Linked DNA regions of Homo sapiens. The protein of the gene in region 3 interacts with the protein of the main gene of each other region in a pairwise test. Each region holds a gene or a part of one and is shown on either strand. Other genes may lie near its edges.

Region 1 (3,755 bases), on a different chromosome or scaffold from region 3:
GTGGTGCTCCTCCCAAACTCAGGGAGCAGGTATTTCCGTTCACCTGCGCCTTCAAGAACCTGAGCTCAAAGCGCTGCAATGACTGGCCAGGGACTAGCAGCGGCTCAGTGGTGGGTGGGCTGGGACTTGGGGTTCTTGATTAAGACATGGGGTCCTGAGGGGAGGGACCAGGAAGGGTGGCCTTGAGAAGGACATCCCTGCCAGCCTCAGGCAGTGGGCTTCTAGGGGGAGACTAGGGCTGAGGAGCCAGCCAGGTGGCGGCTGAGGGTCACCCAAAGATGGCTGAAGGGGAGAGGGCCCGCTGCATCCCCTTGGGCCAGAGCCCACAGGCCAGGCCCTGAGGATCTTAGGCTGCACCAGGCTTGCCGGACACAGGCTCATTGTCTCTAGGGCTTTCTGTCTTGCTGTAACGTCTCTCCAGCCAGCTGCAGCTCCTGCTGACTTATCCCACCCCAGCGCAGGTCATCCAACGGTGACTTATGGCCCCGGCCTCCTGGCTCGATGAGGGTATGTTGCTTCTGTTTCTACCTCTCTGAGTTCTTTTCCTCGGAGCAAGTGACCCTGATGGGATGGCCATGGGTGTACAAGGATACTTGTGTCATGGGTGGCTTTGCAGTTCTGTGTTCCTAAGTGTGCTGTGCAGTGATTCGTGCTGCCCTGGTTCACAGTGGCACGTTTGTGTGTCTGTGGATCTGTAGGTGTGTCTGTGAGTTTTAAAAAATATCTCACATTCTCTGTATTTGCATAGACAGTTTTGCAGGTGTTCTCACGTAGTTTTGTGTCTTTGAACTTTTGTTTACTTAGCTGTATTTAGATATGATTGTATCTGGGTGTGTTTGTGTGTGGTTTAGCATTTACATCAGTTTCTTATGTCCCTATGATCATATATTTAAATTAAAAACATCTGCTATTAACTGAAATCAGAGGCAGAGAATACCATTGCCTGGTCCTGAGGGATTTCTTAATAGTGACAGAAGACTGGAGCCTGAGGAGCCACCTCTTGGGTCCTCCATTGTTTCATTCACTCATCCGTTCATTCATTCAATACACATTACACACCTTCTGCATATGAGGGACGCGCAGGTGTGGGAGCAAGCCCCCGCTCCCTGGGGCTAACCTGAGTGAGGGGTCTCACAGGGAGAGAGGACTGGGTGAGGACATAGCAGTCAGGTATGGGCTGCAGGAGGGCAGGGAGGCGCTGGGGACCCGGTGGAGTTGAGAAGGATGAGGCTATAGAAAGGGGCAGCATGGCAGGGAGGCATTGGCTGGGCATGGGCTGGGACTGGAGAGGCCAGTTTCTGTGGGGGTCTCCTATGGAAGACCAGCTGAGCTGTGCCCAGCAAGTGAGGACCTGCTGGGACCTCAGGGCTGAGAAGGGCCTGATACTGGGCCTTTGGCTGGGGTTTGGGGAGCTGCCCCCACCCCCAAAAGCCTTAGCGCCTAGTGGCGGATCCTGCTCCCGCTCCACTAGCAGCAGATGATACCTGTGGCATGGTCTGCTTCTGACTGCCCGACCTGGGGCGCTGAGGCTGTGAGAGCTGTGCTGGGCTGGTGGGAGGTTCCAGGGGCGGCGATGGGGAGGACCTTGCCTCTTTCTGGCCTGTGGCCTTTCTCCTCCCCCAGCTGCTGTCTGGCCGCCCCACCCCCAAGTCTCTGCCACAACCAAAGCTCCTTTGTTGCCTCCCCCTGCCCCGGGCCTCTCCACCTGCTGCTAGCTCAATCCCCTCTTTGTGTGGTTGGTCTTCAGTTGTCATGGCAGCTGGGCCCAGGCTGAGGCCTGCCCACTGTGAGGCTCTTAACTGAACTGCAGCCTGACCCGGTGCGCGGAGGGCCGGGCCAGGGCCAGGCGTGGGAAGGGGGCCCCTGTGTGTCCTGCTCCCCTCAGAGCCCGAGGGGCAGCAGAGAGGAAAGGTGGTCCGGTAGGGGCCCGGGGGCCCTTGTGCGATAGACAAAGCGGCCTTCCAAGACTTGGTGTGGGCACTGGTGGGAGATGGCGCATCTGGCCCTTGATGCCTGTCTTCCAGCCGGGGCGCTTTGCTGGGCAGCCTGCTCACCTGGCTCCTGGGTGTCTCCAGGTGGCTGAGGACATGTCAGGATGGTAGGTTAGGAGGGGCCCGCCATGCACAGAGCAGAGTGAAAGGCAGAATAGGAGAGAAGCTTAGGGTGGGGACGTGTGTGTCTGGCCAGCCTGGAACATGACACATGGAGGGCTTTCCTGGATTTTGTCTGTAGGACACCTGCTGTGCCATTTCCCAGACATAGCCCACCTGAGCACACAGGTAGAGGCGGGTCCCCAAAGACTTGGCCTCCCCTCATTCCTGTCCTCTGTGTTTCCCCCTTTGAATTTCTCACTTCTTCCTCTTGGGTCCTCTTCCTTCTGTCTCCATTTCTGTTCTTACGTAAGCCACAGGCTGCTTCCCCTCGAGCCCTGGTATGGCCCGAGACAGAGGCACCGAGGCTTGAGGGAGGAGCTGCTCTGGGAGGTCCCGGACAGTGGAAGGCCTGCTACTACCTGGAGTGGCTGTTAGGTCCTAATACCTCTTGGGAGGCAGGGTGGGTGAAGTAGGACTGTCTTTGATTTGCCTTGGGGGTCTCGCTCTGTGGAGACCCAGGCCCATCCTTCTGTCCTCCTGAATTTGTGGCCTGGGCTCTGCCCTCCTCGGTCTGAGTTCCCCTTACCAAGGTGGCTTCTCTGTCCACTAGCCCCTCTGCGCCTCTTCAGGTGGATGTTAAGTCCAGTTGGTGAGAGGTTTCCCAAGATGTGGCATGCAGAAGCTCACAGAGTGGCCCCAAGGGAGGAGGGTGGCGAGGGAGGGAGGAGCCCCCAGCACCCATCAGAGCCCCACCAGGGGCTCCTCCCGCCCCCTTCCCCACTGCTCGCCTTTTCTCTGCACCACAAGCAGGTTCTGTAAGAAACCATGGTAGGCATGCGTACAGGCCCCTGTTGGGGAAATAGAATTGAAAACAAAATCTCTTGCCAACCCAGAAAAGCTCTTTGCAAAAGTAGAAGAGAAAAACAGCTTTTAAAAGATTGAATGTGCATGAAACCAGAATGTGGTGCGCACCATGGACAATCCCCCGAGCAACTGCAAAGACGGGAGCTCTGAGCCTGCAATACCCCAAGCGACTGCAAAGACGGGAGCTCTGAGCCTGCAATACCCCGAGTGACTGCAAAGACGGGAGCTCTGAGCCTGCAATACCCCGAATGACTGCAAAGACGGGAGCTCTGAGCCTGCAATCCCTGAGTAACTGCAAAGACGGAAGCTCTCAGCCTGCATGTAGCCGGCAGGTGCAGCCCGTTACAGACATGTTCTCAGGATAAACAGCAACCAGCCCTCCAGCAAGAGGACTGGACATTACCATTTGTCACACGCAGGCAGGTCGTCCTAAATTCACCTCATAATTGGAGTGACCATCTGTGTTAGCTAATTGCCTTTACCCACAGGAAAAATAAAGTTCTTATATTTTTATGACAGGAGATAGTTTTGTGATTTGGAGCCAGGCACCTGCTGAAATTAGGCTCCTACCCTCCCATGGAGACTGGGAGGCAGGGGTGATGTCTTCCTTGATACTTAAATTTCAAAGAAATGGCCCCCAGGACCTTGGGAAAGACAGTCCTGGGTTGTAATGTTGGCAGAAGGCTTATTTAGCTTTTTTTTGAGACAGAGTCTCACTCTGTCACAATCTCGGCTCACTGCAACCTCTGCCTCCTGAGTTCAAACAATTTTCCTGTCTCAGCTTCCCGAGTAGCTGGG
Region 2 (3,755 bases), on a different chromosome or scaffold from region 3:
GCAGTGTTTATCAATTTGGTTCTTTAGCGGGGGGAAAAAAAGAAACACAATACAAAAGAGCAGTCAAAAGTGGAAGCTTGTTTAATATTGCTCTACCATCATCCTGAAAGGCATAATAATTTGAGTTACACATCTGAACTGATTGGAGTTACAGAATCATATCTCCTTTTTGCATTTAACAATATATACAATATAAAATAAATACATTTACACAAATGGACATTTGCTGGAGCACACAGTATGGTACACATCACAAAAATATACAATTGATTGCTTTACAGATGTGAAGCCCATCTACAGCTATAGACATGGTTTTATTATTATTATTATTATTTTTACTACTGGCTATAATGCAACTCCTGGATTATTATAAGCAGTTTAAATTTTTTGTCCTTTTACGATCTTTGCACATAAGACTGCCATAAAATGTTTTCCTAGGCAGGTAAACAGAGACGCTTAAATAATTAAAATACAATCACCAACACCCATTTTCTCTTCTATAAGAAAAATAGCAGTTTTAAATTTTTTATATCTTTTATGTTATCATTTAAATGCAAAATAGTGGAATAAATACAACAATCTGATCTGATTGAAACACAAGTGTAACTACAAGGAGTCACACAATCATATTGCTTTAAATAAGAACGAACCTAAAAGAAGCAAAATTAAAATTAAAATCATATGGCTAAAACATACACCTTTATAACTTTCCAAAACTTCACATTAAGTAAATGGTCTTGCTTGAAACTTGAGAAGACTTCCCTCTAGTGAGGTTTAAGATGAGCATTTACCCTAAAGCCCGTGCAGTTCTTTTTAAATCCACGTTTTAGTTTTATTTCCTATTTGTGAGATACTTACTCTTTTGTAATGCTGAGAGTTACTTAAACTGAAAACTAAAAAATTGTATCTCATTCTTTGAACATATCTCCATCTCAGGTTTTCAGTTGGTTGGCTCTTACTTCTGAAGCCCAAGTACTTTAATGTGATACAGTGAAAACAATGTATATATTGTATATATTTTATTTATATATAGTGTAGTTGAATAGTAGCAACTTAAACCCTGCACAAACTTTCTGGAAAATAATCTTTTTAAACACTTACATATATAAATAATCTTATAGAATCAGCACCTTTTTTCCCAGGAGTTGTATTTTCTGTTGTTATTTTTAAAGGGATGTGCCAATTTCTGAACTCCTATCACAGCTATAAATTTCAAGTTATTGACCATCTGAATGAATTGCTAATGATGATTTATCTAGAATCACACTACAGTCACTTCTCTACTGAGAAACCACAATCTACAATATAGTCCCATATAGCTAATGATAGATACACAGTATTCCTAGCACTGGGTTGATGTTTCATCAACCCAAGGTATTTTGTTTAAAGCACACAAAGTAGCAATAGTTTTGGAAACGAATCTGCACCAAAAAGTTTTGCAACAACACAGAGCGAGTTAATAACAACATCTGAGAGATGATTGAGTGAAAGCCATATATACAGCATTTAAAAATTAGACTTATCTATATTCTTGAAATATTCAAAGTTTTATTTCTAAGCTATACATTGGTATTCTATAATAAACCATTAGAGAAATTATTCCTTGTTTTGAAAATATTATTATGATTTTGATGTGTATCTGTTCATAATGAATACTTGTTTGGAGTTTCAATCTCTTAATTATTATTAGGAAGAACCTTATTACTGGTAAGGAATAGAATATACTACTGTAGTCTCCTGAGGAATTGTACATCCAATATTGTCTCTAATTCTACCCTGTGTCTAAAAGCACACACCACAAGAATCCAAACACCACAAGAACAAGACAACAGTCTTTGAATGCAACATAAAATTCAGAAAAGCACAGCAAACATGAAACATTGAAAAGCTGAACTACATTTCTTTTGTTTGTTAGGATTACAATTTTAATTACATCTGTGTACATAGAATAAGACTGTTCACATAATACAGGGAGCAGCTACTAACACTGGTCCATTGGTATAGCATTTGATGGAGGTTACTGTTTATTGGTTATTCAGCGACTGTAGATTTCGGGGCATCTAATTGATTTCTTCATTAGATTACACCTCTTAACAGTCTGGAACCTGACTTGACTTTCATGCTGTGACAATACTGGTTGAAAAGCACATATATTGGCTTAGCTCTTGGTAAAAACTGCAGATTAATTTAAACGAACATTCCTAAATGAATAAACTTATATGGATTAGGTTTTAGAATTTGGTCAGGCATTTTCTGTCTTTGATGATTTTTTTTTTTAATTCTGGCATTTGCCTTATTGCCTCTTAAATGAATACTGGCTCACAGCTCCTTCTGAGGCAAGGTCTGTGACTTTGCAAACAGGCAGTATCACATTCCTAACCACCATGGCAGCTAGAAATCATATGGCAATTGTACCTCCCAAGTAGAGAGGTGCACTCCTGACAATTCTACGGATCTATATCTCATGTGCAGTGCTTATATATGTGACTACTCAGAGTCACTGTAGGTGTAATCTCATCCTTTGTGTCAGTGAACATTTAGGTAAACTGGAGCTCATGTTAAGAAATTGATGTTTGGGACCAGACTGGCACACAACATAAATTGCATCCGTGATAATATGCACCTTCCCTTCAACTATTGCTTGAGTAAGTTAAATTCCCATATTAATAAATGGCTGAAAAGTGGTAAAGCTGGTACAAAAAAATCTCCATTTGTAAGAAGAAACAAAACATTTTTAAAAATCTTCCTTCAGGATTCATTTGTCCTTCATTATTGTTCGTAATTGTTCAAAGCCAGCACAAAATTGCAGTATTCTTATTTCTCTTTAGTATTGCATGAATGAATAAAGCTTAAACTATTCCCTGAAAAAGTTACATAGTAGCTAAACTAACAAATACCTGGAAGACTTGAAAAAACAATTAAGGAATCAAATGGCTGTAACTGATCTAGATGGAAAAGCAATGATAAGAAGCAGCCGATGCAACGTTGCTTAAGTTGTCTAATTAGAGGCTGCTCCCATGAAATCTAATACTGCACTCAGTCAATTTGTATATGTTGCACTGTACTTTTAGGAACGTTGGTTCTCTCTCTTTGATTCCTTAGTCATTGGGGACAGTATGGTTCACAATAAGTTCACTGGCATCCATATTATGGATCTCCATCCTTTGGCAGGGCTGGCTTCCATCTCTCTTCAGTTAGAGACCTCTTTTAAAAGTTCAGCAGCAGAAGGAAGAAAAAGAAAGATGGAAAGAAGGTCAAGAGGAAAGGAAAGGAAAGGGAAAAGGAAAGGGAAAAAGGAAAGAAAGGGAAAGGAAAGGGGGAAGGGAGGATTTTTTTTTAAACTAAAGCTATTTCAAATTTAGAAAAAAGGGGAAGGATGAGAAAAGAGAGGAATGAGAGTAGGTAAAGAAAAGAAAGAAGGCAGGCAGACGGGAAGAAAATAAAGGAGAATGGGAACTAGGAATGAAAGAAGCAAAGAAATAAGGGAGGTGAAAGAAGAAAAGGAGAAAAAATAAAGAGAAAGAGAAATGTGGGAAGAAAGAGGAAAGAAGATGATGGAGAAAGTAGAAAGAAACTCATCAGGAACCTATGGAGGAATCTGAAAGCTGCTTCATAGTCTTGCTGCTAAATTATCAGTGCAGTCTGTTGATTTTTGATGTTGTTAACTAAACTCTAAGTTTCTTCGACATCACTCTTGGGTTTATTTTCCCTTTTTCAACATGAAGGATGGGAAGGCCCAGGGAGCTTTTAGTCAG
Region 3 (4,539 bases):
ATTAAAGCTTTAAAGCAGAGCTATGCATGGAATCACTGGGCTCCGGACCGTTTTACCGAGGCATTTTTGGAAGCCCTTCCGGTTCAAGTCCTAGTAAACAACGCTCACAAGTCAGACCCCTTGGATGTCAGGACCGCATCCATGGAGAAGAGCTGCTCTGCGAGCATCTGTAACCCTGCTATGAGGGGGAGCCTCCCACGGGAAGCCTAAGGCCCTCGATCCTGCTTTGAAAACCTGGGGCCTCTTGGCACATGCACAATGGACTCCAAAGCCACGAAGGGGCCAGGGGTCTCGGGCTGCCCATGTGCCTCCCGCGCAAAGAGCAGACAGACCGTCCTCTTGGGCGTGCACCTTCTTTTCTGGCCCCTTGGGCTGTGTTTACCTGTGTGCTTCTTCGCCGGGGCGGCCCTAACTTGAGCTTCCAACTGAGCTTTGGCAGCCTTCCTGCTGCGCTTCCTGCCCACGGGCTCCATGGTTGGCTGTCCTGGGAAGTTAGAGGCGATCCCTGAACCTGGTTGAGTGCAAAGTCAAACTAAGTAAGCTAAGGAAACAGGATATGTGAAAGGAGAGCCAACGGGATCTCGGATTCAAGAAAGGGTGGGGCTGGCCCACCCCGTGTATCCTGTGGGAGCAGGAGGGGATGGAGAAGATGCCAGTGTCCCCTCCTATCCTTCCTGGCCCGTCCAGCCCCTCCCTGGGGCTGGCTGCAGAACTCACAGCTGCCTCGCACACCTGAATGGCCCCTGCAGGATCCTTGCGGTGTCCCTGGGACAGAGCTCAGCCCTGCCCCTGTGTGCCCCAGAGACCTGCGTGGCCCGGAGGACCACGGGTGCCACAGGACCTCCCCAGCCATCTCTGGGAGAATGTCAGGGGCTGCACTGCCACTTGCCTGCCTGGATGCCCAGGTGACCCCTCGTGACCCCAGGTGTCCTGTCCTGACCGGCGGCCGGGCTGGAGGGACCCACTCGAACTGTCCCCCACAACACCCCTGCTTGTCGCCTCCCCACACACTCCGCCCCTCCTCCTCCCCTTCCCCCATCCCCTCACCCCACGAACCCCACACCCCTCCCCTCCCCTGCCCCCATCCCTGGCCCCACACCCGGCCCCTGCCTATCTGCCACTCCCCCGACCCTCCCCCCTCTGCCACCACCCCTCCCTTGCTCCCCTCTCCACCACCTCCATTCCCCCAAGCCCCCCTCCCCTGCCCCACCCCTCCCCACTGCACACATCCACAAGTCCCCGGGACAATCCCGGGCCCTGGGGATCACTCAGGTGTCTCCAGCTCCCTCCCTGCCCTGGCCCATCCCAGCCCACCCTCAGGGCCTCGCCCTGACCCAGGCCCCAGGCAACGATGCCAGGGCCATTTCCTGCTTTGAAAACCTGGGGCCTCTTAGCACGTGCATGGTGGACTCCAAAGCCACAAAGGGGCCAGGGGTCTCGGGCTGCCCATGTGCCCCCCGCGCAGAGAGCAAACAGACCATCTCCTTGGGCGTGCACCTTCTTTCGTGGCCCCCTGGGCGGCCGTAACTTGAGCTTCCAACTGAGCTTTGGCAGCCTTCCTGCTGCGCTTCCTGCCCACGGGCTCCATGGTTGGCTGTCCTGGGAAGTTAGAGGCGATCCCTGAACCTGGTTGAGTGCAAAGTCAAACTAAGTAAGCTAAGGAAACAGGATATGTGAAAGGAGAGCCAACGGGATCTCGGATTCAAGAAAGGGTGGGGCTGGCCCACCCCGTGTATCCTGTGGGAGCAGGAGGGGTCGGAGAAGATGCCAGTGTCCCCTCCTATCCTTCGTGGCCCGTCCAGCCCGTCCCTGGGGCTGGCTGCAGAACTCACAGCTGCCTCGCACACCTGAATGGCCCCTGCAGGATCCTTGCGGTGTCCCTGGGACAGAGTTCAGCCCTGCCCCTGTGTGCCCCAGAGACCTGCGTGGCCCGGAGGACCACGGGTGTCACAGGACCTCCCCAGCCATCTCTGGGGGAATGTCAGGGGCTGCACTGCCACTTGCCTGCCTGGATGCCCAGGTGACCCCTCGTGACCCCAAGTGTCCTGTCCTGACGGGCGGCCGGGCTGGAGGGACCCACTCGAACTGTCCCCCACAACACCCCTGCTTGTCGCCTCCCCACACACTCCGCCCCTCCTCCTCCCCTTCCCCCATCCCCTCACCCCACGAACCCCACACCCCTCCCCTCCCCTGCCCCCATCCCTGGCCCCACACCCGGCCCCTGCCTGTCTGCCACTTCCCCGACCCTCCACCCTCTGCCACCACCCCTCCCTTGCTCCCCTCTCCACCCCCTCCATTCCCCCAAGCCCCCCTCCCCTGCCCCACCCCTACCCACTGCACACATGCACAAGTCCCGGGGACACTCCTGGGCCCTGGGGATCACTCAGGTGTCTCCAGCTCCCTCCCTGCCCTGGCCCATCCCAGCCCACCCTCAGGGCCTCGCCCTGACCCAGGCCCCAGGCAACGATGCCAGGGCCATTTCCTGCTTTGAAAACCTGGGGCCTCTTAGCACGTGCATGGTGGACTCCAAAGCCAAGAAGGGGCCAGGGGTCTCGGGCTGCCCGTGTGCAGGTCAGCCGGCCGCTCAGCGCTTCACACCCTGGTTGCGAGAGGGCAGCATGCTCGACTTCCTGCCTCCCTACCGCGAGCGCTTCACCTGCGCTTCACACCCTGGTTGCGAGAGGGCCGCATGCTCGACTTCCTGCCTCCCCACCGCGAGCGCTTCACCTGAGGGACCCCTGATGCCGCTTCCTCACAGAACCTGCAGGCACTGGCACCACGACGCTCTCTTAGAAAAATGGGTCCTCAGTTCTCGCGAGAGCAGCTGCCCTGGCTATCCACGCTCCTCTCTGATTGGTCAGCTAAGTGCGCATGCGCATGCGGGTGAAGGACCTTGGGGGCCACGACCCCTGCTGACACGCCTTCCCTCTTTCCGTAAGGGACCACCCATATTTGCTGTGGACTGGGGTGGGTGGTGGTTCTTTGGGGCCTCTGTCCCCAGAAGTTTTCAGCGCCTCCTCCTGGGGAGGGATGCAAGGACTCGGGATGGAAGCCAAGTGGACGGGGCCTAGGACCTCGCCCCCGAGCTCCTTCCAGCCACCCCTGCCCCTTTGGCTAGAATGGCCTTCGCCTTGCAGGTGGAGCCCAGGCTCCCTCCCATGCCCTGTGTGTTTCCACCATGTCCAGCTGCACCCTTTTTATCAATGGATTGTGCTTTTATGTTTTTTGCTTGCTTGTTTGTTTGTTTTGGAGACGGAGTCTCTCTCTGTCGCCCAGGCTGGAGTGCAGTGGCAAGATCTTGGCTCACTGCAACCTCCACCTCTCGGGTTCAAGCGATTCTCCCACCTCAGCCTCCCAAGGAGCTGGGATTACAGGTGCGTGCCACCATTCTCGGCTAATTTTTGTATTTTTAGTAGAGACGGGGTTTCGTCATGTTGGCCAGGCTGGTCTCGAAGTCCTGACATCAAAGTGATCCACCTGCCTCAGCCTCCCAAAGTGCTGGGATTACAGGCATGAGCCACTGAGCCCATACCCAAAGTCGTGTCTTTAAAGGCATCAACTGTATGATGTATAGTTGTTTCCAAGAAATGATGACTAAAAGGTACTGATTGAGAAACTTTTGTCATTTCTTTCTTCAAAAAAAGTCAACTAGTTTCCTGCTAGTTCTTGCCACTTAAGTTAGCCATAGAAATCCCAGGAGTGACCATCAGGTTGTCAAAGGCCTTTCTTCTTGTTGCTGTAAGGTTGACCTGCTGATAGTAACAGATACACCCCACTCTCGGTTATTTCAGGATCAAGTAGATCCATTGGCCATGGAGTGATGGTCTTTTCAAGTCAGGCTATTTTGAGAGGTAATAAAATATTCGTGTACTTTAATTTATTTCCTTTTGTACTTGCTTGTTTTAAAATACAGTTCTGCACATAAATATTTTTGACAAGATGAACAATATAGATCTATTTTGTCACATTACAAAACAAACAAATTATTAAGATAAGTCAACAATGACTGTAAGTAGAACATTGTATTTCGTTATTAATTTTCATTAGATTTCCAAAACATTTTTCTGTATAACATATTCAGATATTTTGAATTCAGCAATGCAGTCAGATGTTTCATGTAAGTGGCTGGGTGCAGTGGCTCATGCCTGTAATCTCAGCACCTTGGGAGGCTGAGACGGGCAGATCACTGGAGGCCAGGAGTTCGAGACCACCCTGGCCAACATGGTGAAACCCCGTCTCTACCAAAATTACAAAAAAAACTGGGTGGCACCACGCCTGTAATCCCAGATACTTGGGTGGCTGAGGCGCGAGAATCGTTTGAACCCAGGAGGCGGAGGTTGCAGTGAGCCAAGATCGCACCATGGCCCTCCAGCCTGGGTGACACAAGGAGACTCTGTCTCAAAATAAAATAAAATAAATAAAATAAGATAAAATAAAACATATAAGTGTTCTTATGTGATGATTATCTGAATTGTTTCTTTTTTCTTTGCTTTTATTCTACATGGGTATTACTTCACTTGTTTTAAAGAGTTGTGTGTT
Region 4 (3,755 bases), on a different chromosome or scaffold from region 3:
CTAATTTTGGTATTTTTGGTAGAGACAGAGTTTCACCATGTTGGCCAGGCTGGTCTCAAACTCCTGACCTGAGGCAATCTGCCCGCCTCAGCCTCCCAAAGTGCTGGGATTACAGGCGTGAGCCACTATGCCTGGCTGCAATCTGTTTTCTTATCTGTGAAAGAAAACTGTCTTGGAGGACTCAATATTGTTTCCAAAAACCAGCTAGTTCTTCTAAATGCAATGACAGGAGGGGGCAAAGGCCAAAGGATTCTGAAATTAGAAGAATACTTGGCACATAAAAGGCATTCTACAGATATTTGTTGAATATAAATGAATTAGTGTGATTAATGCTGTTATTTAGCTCACAGCACAGGCCTCCATTCCAATTCAGGTTTTTTTTTTTTTTCTTTTGAAACAGAGTTTTGCTCGTTGCCTAGGCTGGAGTGCAATGACATGATCTCGGCACACTGCAACCTCCACCTCCCAGGTTCAAGCAATTCTCCTGCCTCAGTCTCCCAAGTAGTTGGGATTACAGGCATGCGCCACCATGCCCGGCTGATTGTTTGTATTTTTAGTTGAGATGGGGTTTCTCCATGTTGGTTACGCTGGTCTTGAACTCCTGAACTCAGGTGATCCACCCACCTCGACCTCTCAAAGTGCTGGGATTATAGGTGTGAGCCATCACGCCTGGCCTTTGCAGTGAAAAAAAATTTTTTTTTTTTTTTGAGATGAAGTCTCACTCTGTCACCCAGGCTGGAGTGCAGTGGTGCAATCTTGGCTCACTGCAACCTCCACCCTCTGTGTTCAAGCGATTCTCCTGTCTCAGCCTCCTGAGTAGCTGGGATCACAGGTGCCCACCACCATGCCTAGCTAATTTTTGTATTTTTAGTAGAGTTGGGGTTTCGCCATGTTTGCCAGGCTGGTCTCGAACTCCTGACCTTAAGTGATCCACTTGCCTTGGCCTTCCAAAGTGCTGGGATTACAAGTGTGAGCCACCGCACCCAGCCTTGTGATTTTCTTTTATGTTATTTTTCTTCTTTCCCAGGCTGTCTTCTTCCTTGTTCCTTTTCCTCAGAATCAAGTAGAGACTGTGGTGACTCACCATATGCATTAAGTTTACTGAGCTTTCAAATGGTGTTGAAAACAAAATTAAGTTTAAAAAAGGTCAAGTCAAACAGTCTGGCAGAGAAATGGGGACTGGATAAGTACCAAATTGGTAATTATAATAATGGTCTTGGAAACCATGAATGGAATTCAGTTCAGACCCTTGCAGGGTACAGGGAAACCATGTCTAACATAATACAAATTATACTGTTGGGAGAACATCTCAGAAAGCATCAGAAGAGTCTCAGACAGTGTCTGAAAAATATTGCGGCTTTCTGAAATAAAATTCAGAAAAGCGGGAATAGACGTAAGTAATGTTACATAGTACACTTCAGATTTAAGATTGAGGTATTGCTAAAAATGAAGATCTTGAAGAATGAATAAAGGAAGTAGATTTAGACGAGGAAGAGGTTAAAATATTTGTTGTTGTTCTTTTCCAGGTTGATGACAGAAAGGATGGGCATGTGGCATTCTAGACGTAACAGCATTAGATTTGTTTGAAAGAACTGATAAACAGTGTCCAGAATTAAGCACATTTCCTCCATTTTCTCAAAAGAGTTTCCTGGAGAAGTCAGAAGAAATAATACAATTTCCTATTAAATGCAACATATAACCACTATCTTGAAAGGTCTAGACCACAGTATCTACCAAGCAAAGTACAAGGGCAATTTGAGAGAGAAGACTGAGCTAAGAATTTTTCTGATTTGATCATTTCAGAAGATTGTTAGGCATTTCGTACCAAAATTTGAAAATAATGGGTTTAGACTTACTCTCTCTGGGGGCAGGTCCTTTGAATTGACTTCTGATAGGCAACAGTGCCATGTTTCCGATGAGTTTGGTATCAGGATCCATGAGAGAAGAGTGGTAAGCCTGTAATGGCAAGCCCAGGAAGAACACAGAAGCAGAAAAAGAGCAAATGTCACTGTGGCAAACAACCTTCCCTTAAAGGAAAAAAAGAGTAAACCACCCAAGATTAATTAGGGGAGGGAGAAGGGATAGCAGCATTGAGGTGCGAGGGCTGGTTCTTTCTGGCTCAAGAAAACCAATTGTTAAATTTTGAGGCATTTTTCAAGCTGGTTGTTAAACACAGCTCTTCTCAAAAATCAAATTATATAAACTTACAATTAAGTAAATGATGTTGGCTGGACGTGGTGGCTCATGCCTGTAATCCCAGCACTTTGGGAGGCTGAGGCAGGCAGATTGCCTGAGCTCAGGAGTTTGCAACCAGCCTGGGCAACACAGTGAAACCCCATCTCTACTAAAATATAAAAAATTAGCCAGGCGTGGCGGCGTGCGCCTGTAGTCCCAGCCATGTGGGAGGCTAAGCTGGAGAATCACTTGAACCCAGGAGGCGAAGGCTGCAGTGAGCCGAGATCGTGCCACTGCACTCCAGCCTGGGCAACAGAGCAAGACTGTCTCAAAAAAAAAAAAAAAGTAAATAATGTTAAAAACAATGATGCTTAAGTATTCATCACTTCTTTTTTTTTTTTTGAGAAGGAGTCTCACCATGTTGCCTAAGATGATCTCAAACTCCTAAGCTCAAGTGTTCCTCCTGCCTCAGCCTCCCAAAGGGCTGGGACTACAGGTGTGAGCCACCACACCTGGCTACTTCCTAATTTTTTTTTTTTTTTTTGAGACAGAGTTTGGCTCTTGTTGCCCAGGCTGGAGTGCAATGACATGACCTTGGCCCACTGCAACCTCCGCCTCCCGGGTTCAAGTGATTCTCCTGCCTCAGCCTCCTGAGTAGCTGGGATTATAGGGATAAGCCACCACGCCCAGCTAATTTTGTATTTTTGGTAGAGACGATGTTTCTCCATTTTCGCCAGGCTGGTCTCGAACTCCCGACCTCAGGTGATCTGCCCGCCTTGCCCTCCCAAAGTGCTGGGATTACAGATGTGAGCCACTGCACTGCACTTGGCCTACTTCCTAATTTTTTTTTTTTTTTGAGACGGAGTCTTGCCCTGTCGCCCAGGATGGAGTGCGGTGGCGCGATCTCTGCTCACTGCAACCTCCGCCTCCTGGGTTCAAGCGATTCTCCTGCCCCAGCCTCCCAAGTAGCTGGGATTACAGGTGCGTGCCACCACGCCCAGCTAATTTTTGTATTTTTAGTAGAGACAGGGTTTCACCATGTTGGTCAGGCTGGTCTCGAACTCCTGACCCCATGATCCACCCGCCCCGGCCTCCCAAAGTGCTGGGATTACAGGCGTGAGCCACTGCACCCGGCAATAACCTAATTTTTAAAAATTACATTTTACTATTGTCTATGTTCTTAAGGTTATTATTACGAAATACTAAATAATGGGGTGCTGCTGTGCATCTCTTCCAATTCTATGTTCGGTGACATCACATTGGTATCTGGCCAAAGTATTTCCACTACAGAAAGACAAACATCATATAAATCAGGGTACCCAGCCCCCAGCTAAACCAAGACCCAAGCACTATCTTTTCAGCTCTGCCACTTCATGGCGTTATGCTTTTGACCAAGACATCATTCTTCTTCTCTTAGCTTGTTTCCAAATTTGTAAAATGAGAAGATATATATTCCCTTCAGTGGGTAGGTGTGTGTTAAAGGAAGGGATAAAAAAAATCACATTTATGAGAGCATTTTGTATGCTGATTCTTAGTTCTGCTTTTTACAAGATGTCTGGCTTTTTATAAGTCAACATGGG

Evidence for each region.
Region 1: the proteins of FAM9A (region 3) and ZNF775 interact in binary tests that used the Homo sapiens proteins (3 or more experiments, as listed by UniProt).
Region 2: the proteins of FAM9A (region 3) and ESRRG interact in binary tests that used the Homo sapiens proteins (3 or more experiments, as listed by UniProt).
Region 4: the proteins of FAM9A (region 3) and ARPC3 interact in binary tests that used the Homo sapiens proteins (3 or more experiments, as listed by UniProt).

What each region holds. Positions count from the first base shown.
Region 1 is NC_000007.14:150,382,317-150,386,071, forward strand, and holds part of ZNF775 (zinc finger protein 775), read left to right. Parts: exon of another isoform or gene 1-507; intron 508-1,484; exon of another isoform or gene 1,485-1,675; intron 1,676-3,755. UniProt on the Homo sapiens protein: May be involved in transcriptional regulation.
Region 2 is NC_000001.11:216,503,188-216,506,942, forward strand, and holds the end of ESRRG (estrogen-related receptor gamma), read right to left. Parts: coding exon 3,752-3,755; 3' UTR 64-3,751; downstream 1-63. UniProt on the Homo sapiens protein: Orphan receptor that acts as a transcription activator in the absence of bound ligand. Binds specifically to an estrogen response element and activates reporter genes controlled by estrogen response elements.
Region 3 is NC_000023.11:8,798,584-8,803,122, forward strand, and holds the start of FAM9A (protein FAM9A), read right to left. Parts: upstream 2,801-4,539; 5' UTR 2,728-2,800; exon of another isoform or gene 2,657-2,727; intron 1,627-2,656; 5' UTR 1,589-1,626; coding exon 1,498-1,588; intron 512-1,497; coding exon 383-511; intron 1-382.
Region 4 is NC_000012.12:110,443,596-110,447,350, forward strand, and holds part of ARPC3 (actin-related protein 2/3 complex subunit 3), read right to left. Parts: intron 1,957-3,755; coding exon 1,857-1,956; intron 1-1,856. UniProt on the Homo sapiens protein: Component of the Arp2/3 complex, a multiprotein complex that mediates actin polymerization upon stimulation by nucleation-promoting factor (NPF).